4 linked regions of the Homo sapiens genome follow. The protein of the gene in region 3 interacts with the protein of the main gene of each other region in a biochemical or structural test. Each region holds a gene or a part of one and is shown on either strand. Other genes may lie near its edges. The genes, in order: SH2D1A, RNF41, ERBB3 and TNS3.

The links.
Region 1: the proteins of ERBB3 (region 3) and SH2D1A form a complex in vitro, tested with the Homo sapiens proteins (2 studies listed by BioGRID and IntAct, with this or other methods).
Region 2: the proteins of ERBB3 (region 3) and RNF41 form a complex in vitro, tested with the Homo sapiens proteins (2 studies listed by BioGRID).
Region 4: the proteins of ERBB3 (region 3) and TNS3 form a complex in vitro, tested with the Homo sapiens proteins (2 studies listed by BioGRID and IntAct, with this or other methods).

What each region holds. Positions count from the first base shown.
Region 1 is NC_000023.11:124,342,395-124,349,605, reverse strand, and holds the start of SH2D1A (SH2 domain-containing protein 1A), read right to left. Parts: upstream 3,044-7,211; 5' UTR 2,964-3,043; coding exon 2,827-2,963; intron 1-2,826.
Region 2 is NC_000012.12:56,218,861-56,226,832, forward strand, and holds the start of RNF41 (E3 ubiquitin-protein ligase NRDP1), read right to left. Parts: upstream 3,063-7,972; 5' UTR 2,900-3,062; intron 2,842-2,899; exon of another isoform or gene 2,731-2,841; intron 1-2,730. Other genes in the region: NABP2 (SOSS complex subunit B1), read left to right, coding at 5,922-6,075, 6,513-6,651, 6,764-6,835, 7,319-7,400, 7,496-7,559. UniProt on the Homo sapiens protein: Acts as E3 ubiquitin-protein ligase and regulates the degradation of target proteins. Polyubiquitinates MYD88. Negatively regulates MYD88-dependent production of pro-inflammatory cytokines.
Region 3 is NC_000012.12:56,090,129-56,097,190, forward strand, and holds part of ERBB3 (receptor tyrosine-protein kinase erbB-3 isoform 1 precursor), read left to right. Parts: intron 1-2,618; coding exon 2,619-2,692; intron 2,693-2,857; coding exon 2,858-2,948; intron 2,949-3,216; coding exon 3,217-3,422; intron 3,423-3,635; coding exon 3,636-3,768; intron 3,769-3,970; coding exon 3,971-4,061; intron 4,062-4,273; coding exon 4,274-4,428; intron 4,429-5,128; coding exon 5,129-5,182; intron 5,183-5,536; coding exon 5,537-5,678; intron 5,679-6,374; coding exon 6,375-6,494; intron 6,495-6,619; coding exon 6,620-6,718; intron 6,719-6,916; coding exon 6,917-7,062. UniProt on the Homo sapiens protein: Tyrosine-protein kinase that plays an essential role as cell surface receptor for neuregulins.
Region 4 is NC_000007.14:47,579,089-47,586,099, forward strand, and holds the start of TNS3 (tensin-3), read right to left. Parts: upstream 3,024-7,011; 5' UTR 2,963-3,023; exon of another isoform or gene 2,785-2,962; intron 2,611-2,784; exon of another isoform or gene 2,418-2,610; intron 808-2,417; exon of another isoform or gene 763-807; coding exon of another isoform or gene 751-762; intron 1-750. UniProt on the Homo sapiens protein: May act as a protein phosphatase and/or a lipid phosphatase. Involved in the dissociation of the integrin-tensin-actin complex. EGF activates TNS4 and down-regulates TNS3 which results in capping the tail of ITGB1.

The sequences.
Region 1 (7,211 bases), on a different chromosome or scaffold from region 3:
TAAAAACTATAGCTCAATTAAATCTTCTTGGTTAATAGGAGTAAACAAAAGATAGAATGAGAAACCATTCTGAGTAAACCCTACAATCAATGCATGTTTGTCAGCTATACCTTGTTGTCCATGTGTATATGATACCACTTATATTGTTATTTCGACTGCATATCATAAGTGTTCTGGTTTAAAATGAGTACGTGGTTTATTTCTAAATAAAATCTGATTTTATAATTACAGTGTAGCACCAAAAAGAGGGAATGAAATTTTTACATTTATCAAAAGGGACACTCAACTCAAAAACATTGAGAAACTGATAAAAGGCAATGTATCCTCATATCTTCCCTCTGCAGCACATTCTGGCTATCACCCTAACAGTCACATAAGACTTTGAGGCCCCAGTGTACCATTTGAAAGACACCGTAAGGGAACTCCCAATTTGTCTAGTATTTTCCGCTACTTCACAAGGAGGTTTTCATGGAGAACTAAGAGTCATAAAAACTGCATTTATGCAAGATTCACTTTGGGCGAAAACTTAAATGCTTGATAATTTCTCACCTGCCTAAGTTAATTCCTCATGTGGTTCCGGCCTACATAGGCAAAAGTCTAAAGCTGCCCTTCTCTCTTGCATAAGGTACTTAAGGCAATCTTTTGCAGAAGGTAGGATACACATTACTATTCCTGTTTTATAAATATGGAAACTGAGTCCCAGAGAATTTGAGTGACTTTCCCAGAGTCCATACCCTAACCTCTCAATGGCCATTCCGTTTATTGCAGTAAAGAACAGAATTTGCCTTGACAGTTTGTTAATTCAAAAATATCTGCTGAGTGCCTATTATGTGTTCCTGTGTTTCTGGTGATGGAGACAGTATCTCCGCCCTCATGGAGATTATATTTTTGCAGGACAGCCCAGCAATAAGTAGGTAAACAAGCAAATTATCAGATAGTTTAAAGCTCTTTGAAGAAAAATAAAGAGATGGAGTGAGTGTATCAGGGACAGGGAGAGGGCACTTGTTCTAGATAGGTGGTCAAGCAAGTCCTCTCTGAGGGAGGAGACAGTTGAACAAACATGTGAACTGAAGGTATTTTGGGCAGAAGGAACAATAAGCGCAGAAATCCTAAGTGGGGGCATTTTTGAGGAGCTTGAGAAACGGCCAGGAGCCCCGTGAGGCTGAAGCCTTAGGTATATCTTGCCTCTCACTATACCCTGTTGTCCCTCCCCTGCCCAGACTTGTTTTGTACATTCTTTTTCACCTTTGGGTTAAGGAGCATGTTATCTCCTTTGTCAGCTTCCCTAAAGCAGCGCCTTTCACCCACCCACTCACTCCACCTTCTTTCAATGAGAAAAGAGCCTAAGAATCCTAGCTGGTTTTCATTGCCCTTCCCTAGGTTCCACACGGGAACAATAATTATATAAGCAAAACATAAAGATTCAAGCCCAAGACATTCAATAGCTTCCACGTATTTCCCTTGAAGCCTTTGTGAAAAATGTATTTAGCATGACCTGAGAGCTGCCACAAACAAGGCTTGACCGTTTTTAAAAAACAATATACAGTGAAAAATCTTCTAGCACCAGCATCAGGATAATCTTTCTTCACTGACCCATAAGGTATTTCAAACTCTTGTGGGGTATTATCAGATGCTGAACTTACTACCAAGCATTTAACCTCATTTGGTTTCTGTCTAGAACCTACAATGCAGGGCTGCTGTTTTCATGGATTTTTTTTTTTATCCTGCTGACAATAATGCCTGAGCTAGGTCCTTCCTTAGAAATGCCCCCATGATTCCTAAAAGAAATCAACTGAAAAGAGAAGATAAAATAATAATATATCTTTGGTATAATAATAATACCAATAGCTTACATTTATTGAACATTTACTAGGTGTCAGGCCCCAGTGCTAATTTTTTTACTGCATTATGGCACTTAATCTTACAATCCTATGAGGTAGGCAGTAATATGATACCTATTCAATGGATAAGAAAACTGGGGAACTGAGAGGTTAATTTGCCCAAGTCACAAACCTAACATCTGACGAGCACAGGACAAAGTCTCAGATCTGCCTGACTCCGGAGCCCTGGAGCAAAGACGCAGATGAATTTGATTCAAAATGAAGCCTTAGAATGAGACATGCCTAGGCAAATGGCAAAGCTGAATCATAACAAGGGTGTTTTCCCTCCATTCCCTTTAAGACTATTGTGAGTCCTAACGTTTATCAAGAAGGGTCCTATTTCTGAAATCCCCTGCCCCTCCCCACCCCCCACTACTTTTCTAAAGGATGCTACATCAGCAGATCCAGAGAGGTGATTTTACTGACACACATCCCCCTCCTCTCTCAGCATCTCGACCTAACTGGCATTGCATTCTTAAAGTAATTGACTCTGTTTCTTAATGTGCCTCCTCTCTCTGAATGTCATGCTCTTCCTTTGGGATGACACTTCAAAAGTCGTTTAAAGAGAGCTAGAGTAAGGCTCGCAGGGCGCCACCCGATAGGGGTCAAAATGGAAGTGGGGAGCCTGGGTCTTTCCCGGAGCGAAGGTAAACTGTGGACCACATTTCACCACCCGAAATGGCATTCTCTGCAGCTGCCCCAAAAGGCTCTGGTGAGGGCCTTCTGGAGAGCAGGAGGCCCAGGGAATGAAATCCCCAGCGAGGGATTGAGGCGAAAGTGTGTTCCACCACGGCCCTGGGCTGGACTTGAGGGTGGGCCACGGAGGAGGCGTCGGCGAGCTGCTAACGCCGGCGCCCCTGCCTGCCTCGGCCTCCACCCTGGCCCCAGCTGCTGTTGCCCACCGCCCACACCCTCAGCAGGCCCATGTCCACCGTATCATACTCACAGCACACATAGGCAGTACACGCCTGGCACGCTCTCGCTGTCCCTCAGCAAATAGCTGCCATCCAGCCCAGTGGCAAGCAGGAGCTTCTCGCCGGTTTCCCTGCTGATTTTGCCATGATACACAGCCACTGCGTCCATGGCCTGGTGGACTCTTGGGCAGGCCGAGGAGGAGAACTGTGCAAGGGAGATGCCGCTGCTACTGCAGCCAGGCACAAGTCAACCACCTGACTCCCAGTTCAGCCAGATGTGCAAAAAAGAGAGAAGCACCCCAACAACAGGATGTTGTCTACTTGCCTTAAACCTCCTTCTCACACTTCAGTTAAAACGAGCTCAGCAATTTAGTAGCTTGGTTCGATCGAGCTTGCCAAGGGCTTCCATCTTCTGCCCCCCAACACAGGGTTCATACAGAGAGGGGAGGAACATTGGAAGAAGGATTTTGCAAGATTGGGGCTGTACTGCCAACACACACCCTTGCACTCAGACGGGGATGCTTAGTAATGCTTCTGTTCTTGCGGTTTACTCAGAGGCCACCAGGAATAACTTAGCTCAACTAGCCCATAAGGAGTTGATGATAGAGGCAAGTTGTACATGTCTCTGTTGGTATGTGGACCCACTACGTAGGGCAAAAACACACTGACAAAATGAAAGGACCAAGAGCTCTGAGAACAAAACACTGATAGTTTTATCAGTACTGTCAGTATGCAATCATTACTGAACATGGCCATGAAGACTCCTACAGAATCAGACATAGTAGATGAACAGTGAACTCTGGGCAAGTTCTTCTTCTCCCTCTTCCTTCTACCTCACGCAGTCATCTTGAGAAGTCTTGATCCTGAGCAAATATTGATTTCTTTCCTAACACCTTGTCCAAGGTCCCAAAGTGCTAGTTGAGATACAAAAGTCACAATGTACATCCAAAGATGTTCCAGATGTATCTATTTGATGGGCTTTAGATGAGACTGTGAATCATTTAACTGGTGCTTTGCCTTTATGTGGATTTGTATGTGCCCTTTGGTGTACAGGGCCCACCTTTCAGCATTTTGTCCATAAAATCTGTTTTGAATCATTTGCAAGTTGTTGATAATTTTGTTGTAACTTTTATTCTCTGTTGTTTCTAGAAAATGTTATTTCTTCGATTGAGGCTAAACTGTCTTTAATATTTTAAAACCTTTCAACCTTCATTTTCTTCTCTGAAATAAAACATTGCTTCTATTTCAAAATGTGCTAGGTAATATTTCCGCAAAGCTTCCTGCATTTTCACTAGAGTAAGACTTTATTTATTGCTGAAGCTGAATGGTCTTGTACATGTACCTTTAGATTATGTAAAGTACTTTTAAAATTTGAATTTAAATAACTGAAGCTATGTCGTCTATTATATGCTTTCTGCAACTTCAGTGTGTAGTTCTTTGAGAATATGGCAAGGCTGGGAACTCAATAGCGAGAACGACACTTAATTCCTCACATGTCTTACCAATGGATTGGATGTACAGAGCTGACTTGCACCAAAGGCAGATATTTGCTCTTCATCTACTAGGATTAAGAACAATCCTCTAAGATTTCAGTGGTAGCTGGTAGCAACTTTTCTTCTTGATTGAAGAGTGTCCAGCCTTAGTATGCAAAGTATAAACATAAGTCTCCTACTAGTCATTTTCAGCATTAAGAATTTTTTTTTAAAGCATTCAAGGTGACATTTGGGGATGGCTCTGGGGAATGGGACCAATATTATTTTATCATCTTCCTTCCTCACATGTTTTTGACCAACTCCACCTCTTACCCCTTTTCATGCTTTGGATCAAGGAAGAAATTAATCTGATATATGAATGCATACTCCAACATTAAGGATTTGAAAGGTTGTCCACCTTGGGCTCTCCATATATTGAGCAGGCAAATGGTTAGCCCAGAGGAATTAATCAAAATGGTGGAATTTCAAATAGAAAGGAGACAGGGAAAGGGATCCCTTTATATCAGTCCATATGAGCAACAGCTGACCTGTGAGGTGAACTGTGAGAACATTCAGTGTCACATAAGTGAAAACAAAACCTAACCTTTTTTTGTCTCTTAACAACTCTGAACAAATCATCCATAAACTTAGGAACAGAGCAACCTGGATCTGACAGCACAAGCGTACCATGCACTCTTTTTTTCTTTCTCTGTTTTGTTCCATGTTGCTAAAATAGCACACCTGTCAAAGCAGCCAGGTATGACGGGGTTCAGCACAACTAAAATTGCACTAAAAAACAGATAAATTATAAGGTAATAGTACAACTTTCACATCCAGTACCTCATTGTCATCTTACAAGCAAGCTGACAGCTGAGCCAGCCGAGCCAGCCCACTAGTGCAGTGTTGATGAAAAATACTGACATCTTCACTCTAATCCTACACCAGTACTAAACCTGACTTTAGCAAATTCAAAACTTCACACTGAGCTTGAAGCGTAGAGAAAAGAGGAATTGAAATGACTCTCTTCCTTCTCTCCCCATACACACGAGAGGAAATGGGAGAAAATGAAAGAGGAGAGCAATGGAGATAGTAGAGGCACCAACAGAGAAAGAGTTAGGAAGAATGGACCCCAAGTACAAGTATAAACCACTTAGGAGCAGAATTATTTAATTAATGGTTTATCGTCTGTGTCCCCCACTAGAATGTAAGGTCCATGATGGAGGGATTTTGTGTACTTTGCTCACCACTGTATCCTGTGTCTGGCAAGTAGTAGGTGCTATATATATTTGTTGTGTGAATGAATGAATGAATGAACTTAATGCTCTCAATAAAAGAAAAAATACTGAAATTCTCTTTTACACTCACGCACACACACACACACACACACACAATATTGGTTCTACATGCCTATGGTCGTCTTTGAAATGACAAGATGAATTGGAAGGAGCAGTAGTCCAGTAAGTAGGAGAGTTGAAATATATGCCATGTTTTGCCACTAAATCACTTCTCTCTGAGTCTCATTTTCTCCATCTGTCAAATGGAATTGAACCAGATGACCCCTAAGGTCACGTCTAGGTTTAACATTCTATTCTCTAAACAAAAGCCAAATGTGTTTTAGAGAGAAACAGAGGGGAAATGAATTGAACTTATTTGTGCACAAGAACAAAGACCTGTTTCCTCAATCTCCCTCAATAAAGGAAATATTTTCATTCTTGACATTTTACAATAACTTAAGGGGGAAAATCATAGAATGGAGGAAGAGAGCTTCACAGTTACAACCTTTTAGAATATAGATGCCATTTAAATCAGATTATAAAAGCATTGAAATTTTAGAAAAACTGCCAGCCAAGGTTGAAAGTATCTTCTTAACCAAACTTGTCAACTCCTGAGGTCTCTGAGAGGTGACAGAATTTTGCATGTGGAAGCCCTGTCTGAGGTGCTAATTGTCTTCATTTCAAATGCCCTAGGCTATTCTCAAACCCAGGTAGATTAAAAGAATGATGCCAAGGGTGGTCAGTTTTATAGAGTGGCTCTGACATTTCAAAATCTTTTTCTCTGACCTTTCAAAACTAACTTTGTTCTTCCACTAGCTCATTTATAGGTGTGAATTCTCCTGTGACAGTGTTATGACAGTGTTACCTGTGGTGAGTTTACACATTCTCTCAGCACTTACTAAAATTCACTTCCTTTACAAAAATGATTAAAGAAAAAAATTGTTTTTTTTACAAAAGAGCACCTCCTTTTGATAATCTCTGGGTTTACCTATGAGGCCAATCTTTCTAAATGCCCTTTTTAAGTGAGAAGCCAGAGACAGGGTTGTTGTGTGTGTTTATTTAAGCCTGTCTTAAATATTTTTATTATTTCAACCAACACTTATGAGCATCTACCATATGCCAGACATTATAGTAGGTACTTAGGTTACAGAAAAGTACAGTATCTGCCCCTAAGTAGCTCATAGGTCCAGTGAAGAAGACAGACAAGCAAACAGACAATTATAATTCACTTAACAAGAGCTGAGATAGAGGAAAGGATGGGGCTCTAGGGACATAGTAGTGGCATATCTAACTCAACTTATATTCTAACTCGCACAATCTATTCGAGATGGAAAGTGTTTTTATCTTTCTGTCTGCTGTGTACAGGTTTTTTTTTTTTTATTGCACGAATTTTGCCTCCTTCGTGACTCAAAGGAAGTTCCCTCATTCTAGCTGAAACTCTGCATGCTTCTGAGGTTTCATTCTCGGAATAATAGCAACAGCTAATATTTGTTAACTGCATACTATATTCCAGGCATCCTGCTAAGCACTTTGAATGTATTATCTCATTTATTTATATCAACAACCCTGTGAAGCAAATACTATTATTAGTCTCATTTTACCGACAAAGAAACTGAAACCCAGAGAACCTAGGTAGCCTATTCAAGGTGGCACAACTGGTCAATGTCAGGC
Region 2 (7,972 bases), 130 kb from region 3:
GCTGAGCTAATTTTTGTATTTTTAGTAGAGACGGGGTTTCACCATGTTGGCCAGGATGGTCTCAATCTCCTGACCTTGTGATCCGCCCGCCTCGGCCTCCCAAAGTGCTGGGATTATAGGCGTGAGCCACCATGCTTGGCCTATTTTTCTTTTTTTTTTTGAGATGGAGTCTTCCTCTGTCGCTCAGGATGGAGTGCAGTGATGCAATCTCCTCAGCTCACTCCAACCTCCACTTCCCAGGTTCAAACAATTCTCCTGCCTCAGCCTCCTGAGTAGCTGGGATCACAGGCATGTGTCACCATGCCAGGCTAATTTTTATTTTATTTATTTATTTATTTATTTTTTTTTTGAGACGGAGTCTGGCTCTGTCACCCAGGCTGGAGTGCAGTGATGCGATCTCGGCTCACTACAAGTTCCGCCTCCCAGGTTCACACCATTCTCCTGCCCCAGCCTCCCAAGTAGCTGGGACTACAGGCGCCCGCCAGGACGCCCAGCTAATTTTTTTTTTTTATTTTTAGTAGAGACAGGGTTTCACCACGTTAGCCAGGATGATCTTGATCTCCTGACCTCGTGATCTGCCTGCCTCGGCCTCCCAAAGTGCTGGGATTACAGGCGTGAGCCACCGCGCCCAGCCAATTTTTATATTTTAGTAGAGACAGGGTTTCAACATGTTGGCCAGGCTGGTCTCAAACTGGCCTCATATGATCCACCACCTTTGGCCTCCCAAAGTGCTGGGATTACAGGCGTGAGCCACTGCGCCCGGCGTAATATAAGGTGTATATATGTGTGTGTGTGTATATATGTGTATATACACGCGCGCACCCCTTATACATACTGTCTGCAAATCAAATGAAATAATAAATACGAAAGGAGGCTGGACGCAGTGGCTCACACCCGTAATCCCAGCACTTTGGGAGGCCGAAGTGAGTGGATCACCTGAGTCCAAGAGTTTGAGACCAGCCTGGGCAACATAGTGAAACCTTGTCTCTACAAAAAATACAAAAATTAGCCGGGCATGATGGCGTGAGTGCCTGTAGTCCCGGCTACTGAGGAGGCTGAAGGGGGAAGGTCAACTGAGCCGAGGAGGCAGAGGTTGCAGTGAGCAGAGATCGCAGCACCGCACTCCGGCCTGGGTGACAGAGTGAGACCCTGTCTCAAAAATAAATAAATAAATAAATAAATAAATAAATAAATAAATATGAAAGGATACTGAATACTGTTATCCTCAAGTAAGATTATTTGTAGCAACAGAATACAAAATAAGGCTGGGTGCAGTGGCTCATGCCTGTAATCCTAGCACTTTGGGAAGCCGAGATGGACCAATCACCTGAGGTCAGGGTTTTGTTTTGTTTTTTTTGGCGGGGGGTGTGGGGAGACAGAGTCTCACTCTGTTGCCCAGGTTGGAGTTCAGTGGTGGAATCTCAGCTCACTGCAACCTCTGCCTCCTGGGTTCAAGCAATTCTCCTGCCTCAGCTTCCCAAGTAGCTGGGACTACAGGTGCATGCAGCCATGCCCCGGCTAATTTTTTATATTTTTAGTAGAGACGGGGTTTCACTGTGTTGCCCAGGCTGGTCTCGAACTTTTGAGCTCAGGCAATCCGCCCGCCTCGTCCTCCCAAAGTGCTAGGATTACAGGCGTGAGCCACCGCGCCCGGCTACAGTCAGAGGTTTGAGACCAGCCTGGCCAACATGGTGAAACCCCATCTCAACTAAAAATACAAAAAATTAGCCAGGCATGGTGGCAGGTACCTGTAATCCCAGCTATTCAAGAGGCTGAGGCAGGAGAATCGCTTGAACCCAGAAAGAGGTGGCACTGAGCCGAGATTGTGCCACTGCACTCCAGCGTGGGTGACAGAGTGAGACTCCGTTTCAAAAAAAAAAAAAAACAAGAATGCAAAATAAATTTAGAGTACTGAGAGTCGGAGAGGAAATGCTTGACAAAAGCTTGTTCCTTCTTTTTACTAGAAGGCAGGGCTAGCCACAGGTCGGTCGGCTTAACATTGCATCACTCACATTCCCTACCACTAGTCCACTACATTCTTATTTGGGGCAAAACTATCAGCCAACAACACTATCAGTCTCTTGCCCTATTGTCAGACTCTAAAACCCCTGTATAGAAAGGGATAACACTATCACGGGCCAGTCCCCAAGAACAGTGGCCTCAATAACAGCCCCACTTGCTATTAAATGAAATGAAGTTTCTGAACGGGGAAGCAGTCTGTCAATCCCTCAAGCAAAACGCCTTCACCCCTCCTGGCTTTCTGCTCTTCCTCTAGCCCCCTCCTCCCCACTACCCAATTTCCCAAAGTCCTGAGTTAGGGAAGGCCTTCCAGTGTGTGGTGTGTGAACCCTGCCAGAGAGCCAGGCTGCAAACCAAGCGCAGGGATGTGAAGAATGTGAGATTCCTTCATGGAGGGCTGGGAGGGGGTGAGGAGCGGGGAAGGAATGAGAGGACAAGGCTGCCAACGACAAGGCATGGGAGAGGAGCCAAGCTATGGCGCTTCGAGGGCGGGGGTTTAGGTTCCACCGCCCCTGCCCAGGCTGGCCCCCGGAATGCTCCCTTCCTCCCCTTCTGGCCCGTCAATCATTGCCCATTTAAACACCACGCTGTTCCCCCAGTTCTGCAGGTGCCGGTCCTCCAGCTAGCCCCGGCCCCCTCCCGCACTTCTCAAAGCTCCCCTATTCCAATGGACCTTCCCCAACAACCCGTTCTCCAGAGCCCCCTTCTCACCTCCCGACTCCTCGCCAGTGCTGCTCCCTTCTCACATTTTTATCTCTACCACCATCCCTCCTCCTGAACCCCAGTTATTTCAACCCCCCGCCCCAATACCCCTGGGACATCACCTCCTCCCCTCCCACACCCTCTTTTAGGTGGAAGATCGCGCAGGCGCAGTACGCACCGCCCTGGAAGCGGCCTGGAGTCTCCGCAACCTGACCCAGTCGGAGCTGAGGCCGCAGCGGCCACAGTACTGCCCTGGTGCCGGGTCCCAGCCTCTCCCGGGAAGGGAAGGGAAAGGGGAAGGAGGGGAAAGAAGACTCCTACCACTCGTCGCCGCCTCAGACGGATCCTTTGCCCCGCCCACCGCTGCTACGCAACCCGGCGGAAGCTCGTCACCAAACCCCGCCTCTTTGTTTAACTCAGCCCCTACACCAGCAGCCAGGAGCTGCCTACGAGGAGGGACGAAGGCTGGCCAGGCCTCCACTCTAGACAGGAAGTCTAGTCTAGAGTCTATATGGTCCCAGCCAGGACTATGTAGCCATTTAGGAGGGAGAACTCTATGTTCTTCCCGGCAAAAACGTGTGGGCCTGGCCGGCCACGCTTCGCTTTGGAGGGGTGCAGGTGACTTGTGTCTTAGAGCTGACGCAGATTGTTGCGAGATCATTGCGGAGAGGCAGGCCTGCAGCGTGACCTGCTGCGGGTCCGGCCCCTCTCCCTTTTCCAGAGCCCTGGTCAGCATCCCAGAGCTTCGTAACCCCTTGACTCCTGTCATGGGAATGGATATTGCAGTTAACAAGGCGGCCGCGGGGTGGGGAGTGAGGGAGTCTGACCGCAAAGCTTAGATCTGGGGTGCTCAACGGGTTGTCTGCCTCTCTCCCAGGCGCTCTCCTGCCGTATCCACGATGGCTCCCCGAACACTTGTGGAGTTCCCTGAAACACCTAAGAGGAAGGAAGGGAGAAAAAATTTCCCTCTTCCTGAGTTGGGGTTTGATTTCCTTAGCTTACAACACCGTGGTGTTGGGGATGTGGGCGGTAGAGAACGTGGGATCCAAGGGAAGTCAATGTGGAGCCTAAAGAGCTCCGTGAGCAGATAAGGGATTAATTAAGCAAACCAAGGCATTACAATCACATGACTTCCTAGACTAATCTGGTATTAAATAGTATGGTATTTATTGTGGACATTGGCTAAGCAAATGCTAATGCACATTAATACACACATACACACATATCTTTATGTAATTTGTTTATACACAACAATACAGAGCTAGCTACCTTTTGTGGACAATTTGACAGGTCCCAAAAGGAACTAAAGTTTCAGGCCTCCTTTCTGCTGTCTTCTAGCGGGACTCTGAGATAAGTAAGATAAGAGTAGTATGGCCGGGCGCGGTGGTTCATGCCTTTAATCCCAACACTTTGGGAGACCGAGGCTGGTGGATCACGAGGTCAGGAGTTTGAGCCCAGGCTGGCCAACGTGGTGAAACCCCGTCTCTACTAAAAATACAAAAAAAGTAGCCGGGCGTGGTGGCGGGCGCCTGTAATCCCAGCTACTCGGGAGGCTGAGACAGGAGAATCGCTTGAACCCGGGAGGCAGAGGTTGCATTGCAGTGAGCCGAGATCGCGCCACTGCACTCCAACCTGGGCGACAGAGCAAGACTCCTTTGCCGGGGTGGAGCGGTGGGGCGGGGCGGGGAAGAGTAGTATGGCCAGGTGCAGCGGCTCACGCCTGTAATCCTAGCACTTTGGGAGGACGAGGTGGGCGGATCCCTTGAGGTCATGAGTCCGAGACCAGCCTGGGAAACATGGCGAAACTGTCTCTACAAAAAAAATACAGAAATTAGCCGAGGGTGGTAGTGCGAACCTGTAGTACCAGCTACTACGGAGGCTGTGGTGGGAGGTTGCAGTAAGCCAAGATTGCACCACTACACTCCAGCCTGGGTTACACAGCGAGACCCTGTTTCAAAAAAAAAAAAAAAAGGGACTAACAATGTTTCTCTCTTTGTCGCAGGTTCCATTTCTTCCAAGAAGGGTGAGCCTGCCTTTTGTCTCTGGTGTAAATGCCACTTTTCCCAGAGACCTTGACCAAGCTGGGTAGTGCATTAAAGATGAGAACCCCAAATCAGGAACAAAGATAACGGTTAGAGCAATAAAAAGGGAGGAAACCGTGTGTGCCTACTGTGTGCAAGGCACTTTTTTAAATATAACTTCCGTTTTCTCGTAAGATGGAATTACATATTTTTTGTCTTTTTTTCCCTTTTTGTGGAGAATGGGGTCTCGTTATATTGCCCAGGCAGGTCTGGAACTCCTGGACTCATGCTATCCTCCAGCCTATGCCTCCCTACGTGCTGGGATTACAGGCGTGAGCCACCGCGCCTTGCGGAATTGGAATTACATATGTTTAAATAGTCGAGAAATGAAGTGAAGCATTGAGCCAGGATTCAAACTTTTGTCCGCCAGATTCCGAAGCCCTTGCTCCTTTTCCCATTGTGTCACTCTTTGGAAAGAAACGTCTTAGAACCTAAGTGCATTCTCCCTAGCCAAGTTAAGGAAAACTGGGGGCCCTGTGCGCCTTCTAGTGGTGGATTTTTCCCCCTACAGAGCCAACTATCTCCAAGGTTCCTTTAATACCTGAAATTCGCCCCCTTCGCGGCGCACGAGTCTCTGATCCCGATTGGCTGGGCAGGGCAGGCGGCGGGACGCAGGGCGCGCCCGGGCGGTGCTGATTGGCCGGAGGAGGCCAGCCGGGGGAAACTTCCGGGAATGTCCGCACTCCCGCGTTCCACGGGGCAGCATCCGGCGGCAGCGGAGCCTGTGGCTCCCCCTGCGGGCTGCTCAGCGGCGTGCACAGTCCTGCCGGCTGGCTTGGGTGGGTGGTGGGCTGCGGGTAGGGGAGGGGATGGACCGAGTCCCGGCTTGTCGGGATGAGGGTTCCGGAAGATCTGGCCAGTAAGATTCTACTCCCTGGCTGTGCACCGGGTTCCCTACCCCTGTCTACGTCGGCTCCGCCACTTCGCGGCTTGAGACTAAAAGAGCATCCCGGCAGGGGGCCTTCCAGCCCCAAAGCAGCCTGTCCAGAGACCCCCAAATTCTGATCCTGAAGTTGGAGGCCTCCGGGGATGTTCTTTTTTAATCTTTTAGAAGGGTTAGAGGGGTTGAGGCTGCCTGACCCCAGCCTAATGGGGTAGGTAGGCCTTGGGAAGTGGAGCATGGGGGCAAAGGATCCAAGCATTGAGCCTTCATCCTCTATTCCCCATCCAGTGGGGTGCCGAGGCTCAGGCAGCATGACGACGGAGACCTTTGTGAAGGATATCAAGCCTGGGCTCAAGAATCTGAACCTTATCTTCATTGTGCTGGAGACAGGTGTCTATACTGGGGTGGCGGGTTCGCGGGATGGGGGTCGGGGGCAGGAGGGGAAGAACGCTGTCTGCGTTCTTAACTTGCTATGGGGATGGCAAGGCAAGCTGCAAGACACTCCTCACTCCCAATCTCTTCGACCCTGGGACAGAAAGTTGCAGTCAGGTATAGGGTAGATAGAACTCTTGCCAGATCTAGACCTCCTGTGCGACGCGGGCCTCTTTCCACTCAGGGCCCTCTCCATGGTGCTGGCCCCTGAACTCCCACCTCCACCCTCCACCACCCCTTCCACAATCCCAACCCTTTATGCCCCAGGGATTTGGGCTTTCCCCTGTTTGTACACCTTTTCCCTCATTCCACCAATATCCACATCTCATCCTTCTGAGAGATACCACTCCATTTATTTGACCATCCTCCCACCTCGATTTATCTGTTCCGTTCAGGCCGAGTGACCAAGACAAAGGACGGGCATGAGGTTCGGACCTGCAAAGTGGCGGACAAAACAGGCAGCATCAATATCTCTGTCTGGGACGATGTTGGCAATCTGATCCAGCCTGGGGACATTATCCGGCTCACCAAAGGGTAAGTCAGCTGGTGACTTCTGGCCTTCCAAAGGCAACAACAATCAAGAGTGGGGTTAACAGTCCCTATAACACTTCTGAGTACTGAATTTTGCTTTTTTTGCCTCCCATAGGTACGCTTCAGTTTTCAAAGGTTGTCTGACACTATATACTGGCCGTGGGGGTGATCTGCAGAAGATTGGAGAGTAAGTGCTGTCTTGGGGATTGGGATGAAGAAGCACCAGGGCAAAGGGGTTTGCAAGGAGGCAGCATAGGGTGTGCAGTCCAAGCCTCATTTCTGGACTTTTTCTGTTTGTTTGTTTGTTTGTTTTGAGAAACAGTCTCTGTCGCTCAGGCTGGAGTACAGTGGCATGATCTGGGCTCACTGTAGCCTTGACCTCCCGGGGTCAGGTGATCCTCCCACATCAGCCTCCCAAGTAGCTGAGACTACAGGCGTGCTTCACCACACCCAGCTAATTTTTTTGTATTTTTTATAGGGATGGGGTTTCGCCATGTTGCCCAGGCTGGTCCCAAACTCCTGGGCTGAAGTGATCCTCCCGCTTCTGCCTCCCAAAGTGCTAGGATTACAGGTGTGAGTGACCACACCGAACCTATCTGGACTTTTCTGAGGCCTCCAGCAGTGGCCCAGAGGATGAATTCAAGGCTTTAGCTACTTTCTTCCCTTGCAGATTCTGTATGGTTTATTCTGAGGTTCCTAACTTCAGTGAGCCAAACCCAGAGTACAGCACCCAGCAGGCACCCAACAAGGCGGTGAGTCCTGTGGCCACAATGGTGGGAAAGGAGGGCAGATCAAGACAAGAAGCATGGGAGGGAGCAGGATCTGAATATGTAATCTGTGCCTTCAGGTGCAGAACGACAGCAACCCTTCAGCTTCCCAGCCTACCACTGGACCCTCTGCTGCCTCTCCAGGTAAATCTGTTCCCTTCTATCCACTGGTCCTCCTAGCTCTCCCACTCTCCTCAGCCTAGAAAGATGCATTTCCCTCATTCCTTTTCCAAATCTCTCTTTTCTCAGTGTATCCTCCTTCACCCAATTCTCCCAGACCCCTTTTTTTTTTTTTTTTTTTTTTTTTGAGACGAAGTCTCGCTCTTGTCAACCAGGCTGGAGTGCAATGGCGTGATCTCGGCTCACTGCAACCTCCGCCTCCCAGGTTCAAGTGATTCTCCTGCCTCAGCCTCCCAAGTAACTAGGATTACAGGCACCTGCCACCATGCCCGGCTAATTTTTTTTTTTTTGAGATGGAGTCTCTGTCACCCAGGCTGGAGTGCAATGGTGTGACCTCGGCTCACTTCAACCTCTGCCTCCTGGGTTCAAGTGATTCT
Region 3 (7,062 bases):
AGCTGGAATTATAGGTGTGTGCCATCATGCCCGGCTAATTTTTGTATTTTTAGTAGAGACAGGGTTTCACCATGTAGGCCAGGCTGGTCTCGAACTCCTGACCTCAAGTGATCCACCCGCCCCAGCTTCCCAAAGTGTTGGGATTACAAGTGTGAGCCACCGCGTCTGGCCCCCCATACACTCTTTTACCCAGATCCTCCAAATGTTAACATACCACATATGGCCGGGCACAGTGGCTCATGCCTATAATCCCAGCACTTTGGGAGGCTGAGGCAGGTGGATCACTAGGTGTGGATCACGAGGTCAAGAGATTGAGACCATCCTGGCCAACATGGTGAAACCTCATCTCTACTAAAAATACAAAAATTAGCTGGGCGTGGTGGTGTGCGCCTGTAGTCCCAGTTACTCAGGAGGCTGAGGCAGGAGAATAGCTTGAACCTGGCAGGCAGAGGTTGCAGTGAGCCGAGATCGCGGCACTGCACTCCAGCCTGGTGAAAGAGCGAGACTCTGTCCCCCGCCAAAAAAAATACCACATACGCTTTATCACTTCTCTCTCTCTCTGTCTCTCTCTACACACACACACACACACACAAAACACATGCTATTGTTTTTCTGGACCACGTGAGGGTAAATTTTCACACATGGTTCTTTCTTACCCCTGTTATATTTCAGCGTATATTCCTTAAAAATAATATTTTCTTACATAACCACAGCATAGTTGTTTGAATCGGAAAATTAACATTAACACAAAATATTATCTAAGCTACAGACCTTATTCAGATTTCACTAATTGTCCTCCTAAGGTTTGGGATCATACATTACATTCAGTTATCGTGGCACTTCAATCTCCTTTATAACAGCTCCTCAGGTTTTGTTTATCTTTCATGATATTCTTGATGAGTATAGATTAGGTAATGGGCAGCATGTTCTTCAGTTTGGATTAGTTTGATGTGTCCTCATGATTAGATTCAAGTTTTTGTAGTTTTTTTTTGAGACAAGGTCTGGCTCTATTGCCCAGGCTGGAATACAGTGGCATGATCTCAGCTCACTGCAACCTCTGCCTCCCGTGCTCAAGCGAGCACCTCAGCCCCCTGAGTAGCTGGGATTACAGGTGCATGCCACCATGCTTGGCTAATTTTATATATATATATATATATATATATATATAAATAATATATATAAATATAAATATATATATATAAATAATATATATAAATATATATAAACATAAATATTATATACTATTTATATATTTATATATGTGTGTGTATATATATATATATTTTTTTTTTTTTTTGAGACGGAGTCTCGCTCTTGTTGCCCAGGCTGGAGTGCAGTGGCGTGATCTCAGCTCACGCAACCTCCACCTCTCAGGTTCAAGCCATTCTCTATAGAGACAGGGTTGCACCATGTTGTCCAGGATGGTCTCGAACTCATGAGCTCAAGTGATCCTCCTGTCTCAGCCTCCCAAAGTGCTGGGATTATAGGCATGCGCCGCTGCCAGGCTGGAGTTTGATAAGAACACCACAGAGGCTGTGAGCTCAGGGCATCCTATTGAGGATGTACGTGATGTTGATTTGTCCCAGCACTCACAATGATGTCTCTGGTCACTTAGTTAAGGTGATATCTGTCAGGTTTTTCTACTGTAAAGTTACTATTTTTCCATTCACAATTAATGAATGTCTTGGGATAATTGCCTGAATCAATTATTGTTATGATAGTTGCCAAATGATAATTTTCTAATTCCATTATTCCTTCTGCATTTGTTTGTTGGCATTCTACTGTTAGGAAGAGTCTTTCCAGCTGAGCACAGTGGCTTATGCCTGTAATCTCAGCCCTTTGGGAGCCAGTGGGAAAATTGCTTGGGCCCAGGAGTTCAAGGTTACAGTGAGCTATGATGGCACTACTGCTCTCCAGCCAGTGCACTCACTCTGCACAACAGAGTGAGACCCTGTCTCTTAAAAAAAAAAAAAAAAAAAGGCCAGGTGCAGTGGCTCATGCCTGTAATTCCAGCACTTTGGGAGGCCGAGGCGGGCGGATCACAAGGTCAGGAGTTCAAGACCAGCCTGGCCAGCATGGTGAAACCCTGTCTCTACTAAAAATACAAAAAATTAGCCAGGCATGGTGGTGTGCTCCTGTATTCCCAGCTACTTAGGAAGCTGAGGCAGGAGAATCACTTGAACCCAGGAGGTGGAGGTTGCAGTGAGCTGAGATTGCTGCCACTGTACTCCAGCCTGGGCGATAGAGCAAGACTCTGTCTCAAAAAAAAAAAAAAAAAAAAAAAAAAAAAAAGGTCTTCCTTTCCTATTTACTCTTATGGATACTTATTTTATTCTAGTCAATGGTTATAATCCTTTACAATCATTATTTATTTTAGCCAGCCCCTCCAAGTTGGCTCCTGTGTTCTTTGGGCTGTACCCTTAATTCTTTGAGTCTTGTCTTGTTTGCACAAGATGCTCTGGGCTTATATTATATTTCCCCCATCCCAGCCATTTCTCCAAGGAATGTTTCCTTTTAGTGGAGAATGATATTTAGAAACCAAATGCTGAGGCTGGGTGTGCTCATTGCCATTGAGTTATACCTTTACCTTATTGACTGGTTTCTACTGTTCTATTCAGAGACCCCTGGCACAAGATCCCTGCCCTGGACCCAGAGAAGCTCAATGTCTTCCGGACAGTACGGGAGATCACAGGTGAGTGGCAGAGAGTTTGCCCTTTCTAGAAGAATAGGTGAACCACTGGCATAAATTGCGGTATAACTACTTGAGAAAATCACGTCCCAAGTTATAGGGGAGGAGCCAGGAGAACCCAAGAAAGAAGAAGGCTCCCTGCCCATATGCCTCTCTCCAACCCCTCAGGTTACCTGAACATCCAGTCCTGGCCGCCCCACATGCACAACTTCAGTGTTTTTTCCAATTTGACAACCATTGGAGGCAGAAGCCTCTACAAGTGAGTAAAGGGTATGGAGGAAATGGCATCTTCAGGCAATGAAGCCTGTGTCATAGGCATTCTTTAGTAAAATACAAGGCACTGTCTCATACAGCAGTGCCTCAAAACCAAAGGGTTTCAGAGTTTCACGAGGAAAAGGCAAAAGGAGGGGGATTCCCTCTCAGTGGATCTGACTAGCACTGAGCAAATTTCTTGACTAACATGAATCCTTTGAATAGTTAATGTTCCCTTAGTAGTCTCTCCTCTCATCCTGTCTCCTTATTCTCAGCCGGGGCTTCTCATTGTTGATCATGAAGAACTTGAATGTCACATCTCTGGGCTTCCGATCCCTGAAGGAAATTAGTGCTGGGCGTATCTATATAAGTGCCAATAGGCAGCTCTGCTACCACCACTCTTTGAACTGGACCAAGGTGCTTCGGGGGCCTACGGAAGAGCGACTAGACATCAAGCATAATCGGCCGCGCAGAGACTGCGGTGAGGGAAAGGGTCTGCTAGGTGGTGAGAATAGGGAGTCAGGGAGGAGAGGGCTGAAAGGACTATTCTGCCCTAGACGTGGGAGTAGGGTTGAGGGATGGAACCAAGGAGAAGGGGGCTGTTAGGCTGGAAGCAGTAACGAGGAAGAATAATGAAGAGAGGGCTTGCTGGGAGTCCTCAGACTCCTCTCCTAACCCACCCCTTCCTTTCCAGTGGCAGAGGGCAAAGTGTGTGACCCACTGTGCTCCTCTGGGGGATGCTGGGGCCCAGGCCCTGGTCAGTGCTTGTCCTGTCGAAATTATAGCCGAGGAGGTGTCTGTGTGACCCACTGCAACTTTCTGAATGGGTACAGTAAGGGGAGCCAGTCAAGGATGGGTGGGGGTGGGGCCCTGCAATGGAACTGTTCAGGTGGCATACAATAAAAGTCTTTAGACAGCTTTCTGCATGTGCCTTGGTGGGATTGAGGTAGGAGACCTGTGGTTGTGAGATCGGAGCATGAAGGTCAGGACTTGGAAGTGACCCCCCCCTCCCTTTATTCCCCACTACAGGGAGCCTCGAGAATTTGCCCATGAGGCCGAATGCTTCTCCTGCCACCCGGAATGCCAACCCATGGAGGGCACTGCCACATGCAATGGCTCGGTATACTAGTAGCACCAGGATCTCCAAGGGAGACAGAGAAGGGGCAATACTTGGAGCATCTGGGGAATGATATGGCTAAGGATAGCACAGAGAGGCCAGATAATGCTAGGGCCTGCAGATAGAAGATCCTGAATGTCTGGGTTGGTCTTTGCTGGGAGGTATGGAATTGACCTTGGGATCTGATTCTTCCTGACCTTCTCTCTTCCACTCAGGGCTCTGATACTTGTGCTCAATGTGCCCATTTTCGAGATGGGCCCCACTGTGTGAGCAGCTGCCCCCATGGAGTCCTAGGTGCCAAGGGCCCAATCTACAAGTACCCAGATGTTCAGAATGAATGTCGGCCCTGCCATGAGAACTGCACCCAGGGGTCAGTGATGGGATAATAAGGAGAGGGGGTCAGGTGGAAGGGTAGGAGCACAGAACTAGAGTGAGGGAAGCAGAAAGAAGAGAGAGGCTGTGATTCAAGAATCACTCCCAGCTGGCCGGGCGCAGTGGCTCACACCTGTAATCCCAGCACTGTGGGAGGCCGAGGTGGGTGGATCACCTGAGGTCGGGAGTTCGAGACCAGCCTGACCAATATGGAGAAACCCTGTCTCTACCAAAAATTTAAAATTAGCCCGGCGTGGTGGCGCATGCCTGTAATCCCAGCTACGCGGGAGGCTGAGGCAGGAGAATTTCTTGAACCCAGGAGGCAGAGGTTGCGGTGAGCTGAGATTGCATCATTGTACTCCAGCCTGGGCAACAAGAGTGAAACTCTGTCTCAAAAAAAAAAAAAGAATCACTCCCAGCTGTGTAGCGAAGGATTGGAGAAAGGGAAAATCAGTAACAGCACAAAATTACACCACAGTTTTGGGAACCTGGAATAACCTCAGTTCAAGGGAGTTTCACAGAAGAGGGGCTTGGGGAGAGCTAGTGAGCTGGAGGTGGAGGCCATGTCTTGGGATCAGCTCTGGGCTCCAGGATGGGATGCCACGGTAAGTTCTGAAACAAGCTTTTATATGTTAGGCTGTTGAAATTGAGCCTCTGCTGTCCAAGCTCTCATTTAAGGTGGTGACTTTCTTCCCTAGGTGTAAAGGACCAGAGCTTCAAGACTGTTTAGGACAAACACTGGTGCTGATCGGGTATGATGGGGTTGGAGATTCTGGAAACTGGGGATATTTGGGAGTTGGGAGAGAGGTGGTTACCTGGAGAGAAGAGGGAGGCTGTCTTCATTCTGGCCTTTTATGTATGCAGTCCACTATCACTGGACACTTGGGACTCAAGAATGCAGGCTTCTGGACTTCCCTTCCTAAAATTAACTTTCAGTAGTCTAAGACTGGTCCAGATTTAGGTTGGTCCCTTCAGTGCTTAAGGATATATATGTGAATGTTAATTTCTTGCCCCAGGTCAGCATCATACCTTCAACACAAGTATAGTTGACATTTGTAAGGAAGATGCAAACCCAGGATAATGTTGGGTTTCTATATATCCCATAGCAAAACCCATCTGACAATGGCTTTGACAGTGATAGCAGGATTGGTAGTGATTTTCATGATGCTGGGCGGCACTTTTCTCTACTGGCGTGGGCGCCGGATTCAGAATAAAAGGGCTATGAGGCGATACTTGGAACGGGGTGAGGTGAGTACTTAGCTTACTTTTGTTTTTTCTTTTCTTTTTTTGCATGTCCTGGAAGTCTCTTTATAGCTTAATTTTGAGTGGTACCCTGTGCACCCAGGGGTCAGTGATGGGATAAATGTCACTCCCCTCCTCTTTCCCCAGAGATTTGATCCCTTTCTTCAAGGAAGTAGTGTGGTCCCCTAGAAGAACACTGGTCAGAGAAATGGGAGGCATGCATTCTAGTCCTGATTTTGCCATTAATTTGCCACATGACTTTGAAGAAGTTACTTATCTTCTCTGTGCCTCGGTTTATGCATCTATACAGAGGAAATAACATTTGTCCTTCCAGGATGGCTGTAAGGGTAAAGGGGGATGATGTATGTGAAAGTGCTTTGGAAAGCACAGAGCACTGTATAAAAGGTACTCAAGGTGGTAATAGTACTACCAACTCTCCCTAGCTGTCCCCTTCCCCACTTTGTGCTCCTCCATCAAAGGGAAAACCCAACCCCTTTGATTCCTGATCTCATGAGCACAAATAACTTCCTCAGTTCTCAGGGTCTGTACCTCAATATGCCTATAATCCATTCCAGGACTAACGGTGCTTCCTCTTCCTGCCCTTTCAGCTGTGCTGCTTTTGGCATTCACCTATGAGGAGCGGGTTGGAGTGGGACATGGGAATGGCCTTTCCTGAGTAACTCCTTCCCATTTGCTCCTCAGAGCATAGAGCCTCTGGACCCCAGTGAGAAGGCTAACAAAGTCTTGGCCAGAATCTTCAAAGAGACAGAGCTAAGGAAGCTTAAAGTGCTTGGCTCGGGTGTCTTTGGAACTGTGCACAAAGTGAGTGACCCATAGGAATTCTGGAGAGGTGGGGAAGGCATCTAGGGCAAAGGGGTGAAAGATTTTTGCATAGGATTGACCTAGGGAGAATGACCTTATGCCAACTCCTGCCCCAAACTTCCCAGGGAGTGTGGATCCCTGAGGGTGAATCAATCAAGATTCCAGTCTGCATTAAAGTCATTGAGGACAAGAGTGGACGGCAGAGTTTTCAAGCTGTGACAGATGTAAGTGAAGGAAATTCTGTATGCCGCTAGGAGAGAGGACAATATTAGATACAATCATGTAGAAGCAGGGTCCTGTGCTTCTCAGCAGCTACTATGTTAGCCAGAATGTTGGGGGTGGGGGGGCCTGGGCTGGCTGTGCACATGCTGAGTGTATGTGAACCTGTTGGTTTCCTAGATAATACCTTTTGTGTCTCTTAGCATATGCTGGCCATTGGCAGCCTGGACCATGCCCACATTGTAAGGCTGCTGGGACTATGCCCAGGGTCATCTCTGCAGCTTGTCACTCAATATTTGCCTCTGGGTTCTCTGCTGGATCATGTGAGACAACACCGGGGGGCACTGGG
Region 4 (7,011 bases), on a different chromosome or scaffold from region 3:
TTGTGATGGTTTTTAATACTCTTGCTGTGAGGAAGAGAGTAACTAAGTTAATCAACCACCTACTTAATTAACCAACTAACCAGCATCCCTCATTCTAGATCAACAAGGATAGCAGCAGAGGATTCTAGGTAGACAGGACTGGCTCTAGGTCATTCCAGGCACAGCTTGCAGGGGTTAGCTGATTCCCCAGTGATTTCTGGGGTCCTACAGGAAGGACCCGGGGTCCCAGGGTCAGCTGACCTCCTGGAGAGCTTCAGACGCCCAGACCCACCCTTCCCATGATAGCTCCTGCTGCATGGGGCAAACCCACCAGATCAACCCGCAAGACAGGAGGCCCCTCCCTGGGAAATCTATGGGGGCCGCTGTGAGGAAGCCTCGAAGCCTCAATTCTAAGCGTGCTGCTGAGGCACTCAGCAAATGTCTCTGGCTTCCTAGTAAGTGGCAGGGATCTAAACAATGCTTTCTGCCCTCAGGAAGGTGGAAAGTTCCTCCCCCTCTCAAGTTCATACACAGGGACACAGGGAGGGAACAAGAGGCTTCCCCTGAACAGGGGTGGTTTACAACAGGCTGATCTTAAGAAAGGAATGGGGCACATAGAGTCAGAGAACTGGGCTCATTCAGATCCCTAACTGTTCCCAGACTTTAAGAATTTACTTGGTATTTTACTCATCTGTAAAATGGGTCCTTGTGTAGAGTCCTAAGCAGATATAAGCTGCGACTGCCAAATGGTAGGTCAGCCCTTCCACTCACTGTTCTTGCCATACTGCCTCCTCCTCAGGTCTCTGCTATCCCCTTCAGCAACACCTCCTGCAGTGGAAGAGCATACTTTGACACCCCCTCTCCTGCCCTTTATTTCCAGAGTCACATTTGCAAACAGCTCACTTTCAAAACATTAGGTGCCAAAGAGACACTTTGTTAAAAAAAAAAAAATCAATTTGCATTCAGGAATAAGTAGTGCCCTGGGGCTACTAGTTTTTCTATCTTGGTAGTTTTTTAAAGACATAATTCAGCTGAGCTGCTGATAGCTATGGCAGCCTCAGCTGAGGAATCGCTGTCTGGACATGCATTAGAATTCAGTCGACAGACGCGCAGCAGCAGCCAGGAACAGGGGTCTGGGACCCTAGAGTCCTGTCCCAGAATCCCAGGCTGCACTACCACCATGTTTCATTTCATCTCGGCCAAGTTACTTAGCCTTCCTTTGCCTCAGTTTACTCGTCTGTAAAATGGGGTAATCATAATCCCAACTCCCTCCAAGGAATGTAATTTGGGTGAAATGAAATGAATGCATGCAAAGCATTTAGCACAGGCAAACACTCAATCGGTATGCCTGTTACTTTGTCTTCGGGGTCACCATTACTATTCCTAAGGTCAGGAGTCGGGCTTGCTGCCAGTTCCTCCTGTCAATTCCCTGTGTACACACCCCCCACCCCCTGTGCTACCACACCCCCACCAGGACCCAGTGCACCTCCATCTCTGTGTAATGGCCTTGCCCCTCCACCCTCCAGCTGCAGCGACTCCCCACCCCCTCCCTGGCCCTCAAGGCCTCAGCACAGAAAAGCCTTTCTTAATACTTGTTGATTGATTTGCAAATATAACCTCACAGGCCCCAAAGAGAGAAGAACCAGAATCACCAGAACAAGTAAACCTCATTCAAAAGGGAAAGCATGAAAGCAATTTAAAAAATTAATATGCACAGACCAAAGCCTCAAGAAAATCTAAAATGTCAAAGGGTTGGTTAGTTCAGAAGGGCCATGCAATATTAATACAATGAGTTCTGCATTCATACTTTTCAGTATATTTTCAGAGTCCTCCATGATCATGCATTCAAATAGTGAAAAAAATGGGGGGAAAGCCAACCCGGAAGATCAAAGTGTGTGAATGCGCCCCAAGGAAGCCTGGGGGCTTCCCAGGGGGTTGTGACCACCCTCAGTAGTGCTCTCTGCTGGCCCCACACCCTGATGGCGCTTTGAGTTTTTCAACCACGCTGGAGTTCGGGTCATCTGCTGACACTGTCTGGAGAATGCCTGAGGAACGCCTGAATCTCTTCCCGCCACAGACACTCAAATCACTCCAAGCAAAGGACCCGGGACTCACATGTCAGGCCGCTGCACAGCACCGACACAGAGACCCCTGGGCCGTCCGGGACCCTCCCTCCTCCTGCTTGTCAGCGACAGCTCCCGCGTGCCAGGAGGCACATGCCACACAGCTGGCCCCCAGCCTGGGACAGCACCCCCCACCCCAGAATATCCCCCCACCCCGAGGTCCCGTCCTTCAGGGAAAAAAAGGAAGCGCGTAAAGACCCCCTGCCTCCCACCCACCAAAGGGAAAGGGAAAGAGACGCACTGGAGAGCTTGCCTAGAAAAAGTAGGAGAAGGGTCTTGAGCCTGCCCATTGAAGCCCCTAGCTGCGCTCTCCACCTGGAGTCTCGAGACGGAGTCCTAGGGAGCAAAGTCCGCTCGGTCCCGACAGCGACTGCGACATAGCTGCTCCGGTCTCTGCCCTCAGTCCAGGGCGCCCGGGCGCCACGGGTCCCACTCGAGTGGTCCTGCGCCCCAGCCAGTCCCCAAACCCAGCCAGTCAGCGCCCCCGTCCCCGGACTCCGGCGAAGCTGGCCCGCGCCCCAGCCCCTGTCCTGGGACTCCTGCCGAGCCCCCGCCCCCCACGCGCCGCAAACCCCGTACCCGCGCGCACCAAACCCCTTGCCCGTGCGCCCCCAACCGGGTCCCCGCGCTCCCTAACCTGGGTTCTCCCGTGACCCCATCCCCGCGCCCTGAGCTCCCGTACCCCGCGCTCCCCGAACTCTGTCTCCGCGCTCCCCGAACTCAGTCCCCGCGCCCCAGCTCCAGATCTCTGTGCTCCCCAAGCCTCGTTCCTGCGCCCGGAGCGCGAAAGCCCGCGCCGGGCCCGAAACAAAGAGGACCGCGGCGCGTGGCCGCGTTTCCTCCTTCCCCGGCCCCAGTACCTGGGGGAGCCTGAGGCGCGGTCCGGCAGGGCGATGGCCGCAACGAGGCTGGGCTCCGAGTAGCGCGCGGGCGGGCCCGTCCTCCTGGCTGGCTGCCGGCGCCCGCGGCAGGGCCCCCTCGAGGCGGCGCGGGCAATCGCCACGGCCGGCCCCCGCGCCCGCGCCCCGAGCCTGGCGGGTCACCTGGCCTCATCACCCTAACAATGCAGCGCGCCTCCAGGCGCCCTTCACCGGGGTCCCCCGCCCTGCCGAGGTGCGCCCTGGGACCTCCCTTCGCTGGCCGCAGAGAGGACCTGGAATTATCAGACCCATTGAGCAGCCCAGGCTCCAAGTGGTCTGGAGGCTTGCAGGTTCCGCCGGGCCGGTGTTAGAGTACCTGGGGAGGCGGGTTCGGATCCTGGTTCCTGCACAACCAGTTCATTCTTTCATTCAGCGCCTGTGATTAAGGTGCTCTCCGGGAGCAAGACCTACCCTCCCTCCTGTAGCTCATAGCCTAGTGGGAGTCGCGCATACATAAAGGAGCACAGCCGCTCCGGAAAGCCTAGGGTGCCGTAGAAGCCCCTGAAATACCCAGCTAATGAAGGGAGGAGGTCAGGGAAGTCTTTAGAAGTCACATGACTTCTTAAAATGCGCCGGGACAAATGAGCAGAATTTAGGCAAGCCAGGGGAAACCAGAAAAACGATCCCGAGCAGAGAGATTCTCAGAGGAGGAAAGGCCTATAGGTTGTCCATCCTGACTGTCCATCCCTGAGATTCAGATGGCCCTGAACTCAGTCGCTTAGCCTCAGTTTCCCCATTTGTGAGATCGGGGGAATGGAAAAAGTTTGCAGAAATCAGAAGTGCTCTTCCTCCAGGGAGGTCACAAGAGAAATTTCATCAGCGGTTTGTCCTGTGGTCCTTTCCAGGAAAACATCCTCCCCGCCAGCCTCTCACAGAAGAGACCTAGATTTCATCTGCCACGTGGAGCAGGCGGTCTCAGAATCCCACCCGGAGCAGGGTCCAGGGCAAGTCTTGGAGGACAGTCACCAAGAACTGCTTTGGATTCGGGAACAGAGCTGCCTAACCCATCCGCAGCCCTGGGGTCCTGCCCTGTTCCTCTGGCCCCTTCAGGGCAGCGGGGGAAGCAGGGAAAACAGCCTGTCAGAGATGGCAGAGAAACCGAGCAAGAATAATTATCCTGGAAAAGACTTTCAGAAGTAACCACCAGAAACTTCGAGTCCCCAGATCCAAACAGCTGAGAATGTGGGGCCTGAGCCACGCTCTGACTCCACTCCCACCACATGAGGAGAAACAAGAGCTGCTTTTCTGGAAGACTTGAACAACCCCTGCTGTGCTCTGGAAGGTAGTGTCATTTCTCATCCCCAGACTGATCTGGGTATTTATTCCCAGGCAAAGGCTTCATGAGCACCATGCCCCAGCCCCTAGAGATGAGGCAGGCATTTTTCCTACACTCTAGGAGACACCAGGTCAAGAGTCAATGAGATGAGTCAAGGGGTGCCAGGGAAGATGCCATAGGGGAAGGTGGGGAGGAGGTCACAGCCAGCTGGGTTAGGAATGGGGGTGAGGCTGGTACTGTTACGATCTCCTTTGTCCTGATAAGGAAACAGGATCTGACATTCTAGGCAACTTGTTCAAGGTCACCCACCTGGTCAGGCGAAGAAAGTGGGAGGGATCAGGACTATCTGGCCTTGAGGCTACTCTTAACTTCTTCCCAGCTGCCTGCCCACACCATCCACTCTGTGCAATTGGACTAAATCATCACTTTGCTCAACCCTCTCTTCCATTAAGACCGTGGTGATCTTCACACCCAGAGCCAATTACGTGCTATTCTGTGCATCACAGAAACCATCATAATGCCAAAAACCATGTTGGCTGAATGACAACATGAATTTGAGCTTCTTGCAGTGTTAGGGCACCCATTTACAGGAGGTGACACTGTTGTTTGTCTGAGAGCTCACAGTCAGGAAAACTCAGTGCAGTGCTGGGGTTCTCTGACCCTTTGTCAGGGAGCCTCTTCTAAAATCTCTCCAAACTGCTACCCACACCCAAGCCAGATGGCCCCACCGGCCACACTGCCCTTGTTGGGGTAGCAATGGAATGGGATGCCCCAACCACACCTTTGTTTCTAGAAAAACTGTGACTTGGGTGCTCATTCGTGCAGTGTCTGTGGTTATATTCCCTGGCAGTGTCCCAAGAAAGGAGAAGAAAAACCGGGCTCCAGTATCCCCACGCACTCTGTGTTGGCTGGGATGGCTGTTCCCCGGGTTCCCCACACCTCGTCTAGAGGCACATGAAGGGAAGCCTCTCTGGATCCCCAATCGGGACCTGGGCCCCTTCCAGAGCTTCGCTTCCCCAGCCCAGGGCCTCCCCACTTCGCAGGCTGCAACTTCAAGTTTCCAAGAAATTAAACAAAAACAGGGCATGAACCAGTATCTGAAAAAGGGAATGTGCATTTTTTCCATCCTTAGCCATCCAAAAAAAACTCAACTTTGAAAACAAAAGTCTCCAACATTTAGCTGAAAAAAAAAAAAAGCAGCAATATGCCAAGAGTGGCCTCTCCCTCCTAGTATGCCAAGCAGAGGGCAGGGGAGTCTGGGCAAGAAACTCCCGCCAATCTCCTTCCTCCCTGAGCCCTTCTTTGCAGACTCATTCTTGCTCCTCCCCTGTAGGAGTTTTAGAAGATGTGTTGGAAGCTTGTCATTGCAATGAAGATTGTCTTTGCCACCGCAAAAATCTGAATTTGTATCCCTAGATCAAGGGAGGTATATGAGCAAGGACTTGGATATTTTTCCTTATTTCTTACTTTCTGTCACTGAAAATATTTCCCAAAGACCAACTGAAAGAGACAGCAGGAAACATTACACAGGATGGAGTTACAAAGCTCTACAGCGCATTCAGAGAACTGTGGAGTTGGAACATGAGCAAATGCCTGTGTTTTGCCTTAAGATACTGAGTCTCGGCCGGGCGCAGTGGCTCACACCTATAATCCCAGCACTTTGGGAGGCCGAGGAGGGCAGATCACAAGGTCAAGAGATCGAGACCATCCTGGCCAATATGGTGAAACCCCGTCTCTACTAAAAATACAAAAATTAGCTGGGAGTGGTGGCACGCACCTGTAGTTTCAGCTACTCAGGAGGCTGAGACAGGAGAATCGCTTGAACCCAGGAGGCGGAGGTTGCAGTGAGCTGAGATCGCACCACTGCACTGCAGTCTGGGTGACAGAGCAAGACTCTGTCTCAAAAAAAAAAAAAAAAAGATACTAAGTCCCTTGAGACTCTTACTAGAACACCTGGCCCTTTCCTCTCTTCCTTTTTCTCTTCCCAAACACACGAATCCTCACCTACAGCTCAACAAAGTGGGCTTTACAGTTGCCAGGCCTGGCTAGAGGCACCTGAGCTTTTCCGTGTCTCAGAACCTTTTCGGAATTTACATAACCTTGGTGTTTGTGATGGCTCATGTCAGATGTCAACTTGATTGGGCTAAGGGTTGCCCAGATAGCTGGTAAAATGTGATTTCTGGGTGTGTGGGTAGCGTGTTTCTGGAAGAGCTTAGCGTTTGAATGGGTAGACTGAGTAAAGCAAATCCATCCTCACCAGTGTGGGTGGGCACCATCCAGTCCTTCAAGGGCCCAAGTAGAACAAAAAGGCAGAAAAAGGGTGAGTTCTTCCTCTTCCTTCTTGAGCTGGAACATTCATTTTCTCTTGCCCTCAAATATCAGTGCTCCTGGTTTTCAGGCCTTTGGACTCAGACTGGCAATTACACCACCAACTTTCCTGGGTCTTCAGTTTGCAGACATAGTTGTGTGAGCCATAATTGTGTGAGCCAATTCCTATAATAAATTTCTTCTAGGCCAGGTGCAGTGGCTCACGCCTGTAATCCCAGCAATTTGGGAGGCCGAGGCGGGCAGATCACGAGGTCAGGAGATCGAGACCATCCTGGCTAACACGGTAAAACCCTGTCTCTACTAAAAAATACAAAACAAAAAAAAAATTAGCCAGGCGTGGTGGCAGGAGCCTGTAGTCCCAGCTACTCGGGAGGCTGAGGCAAGA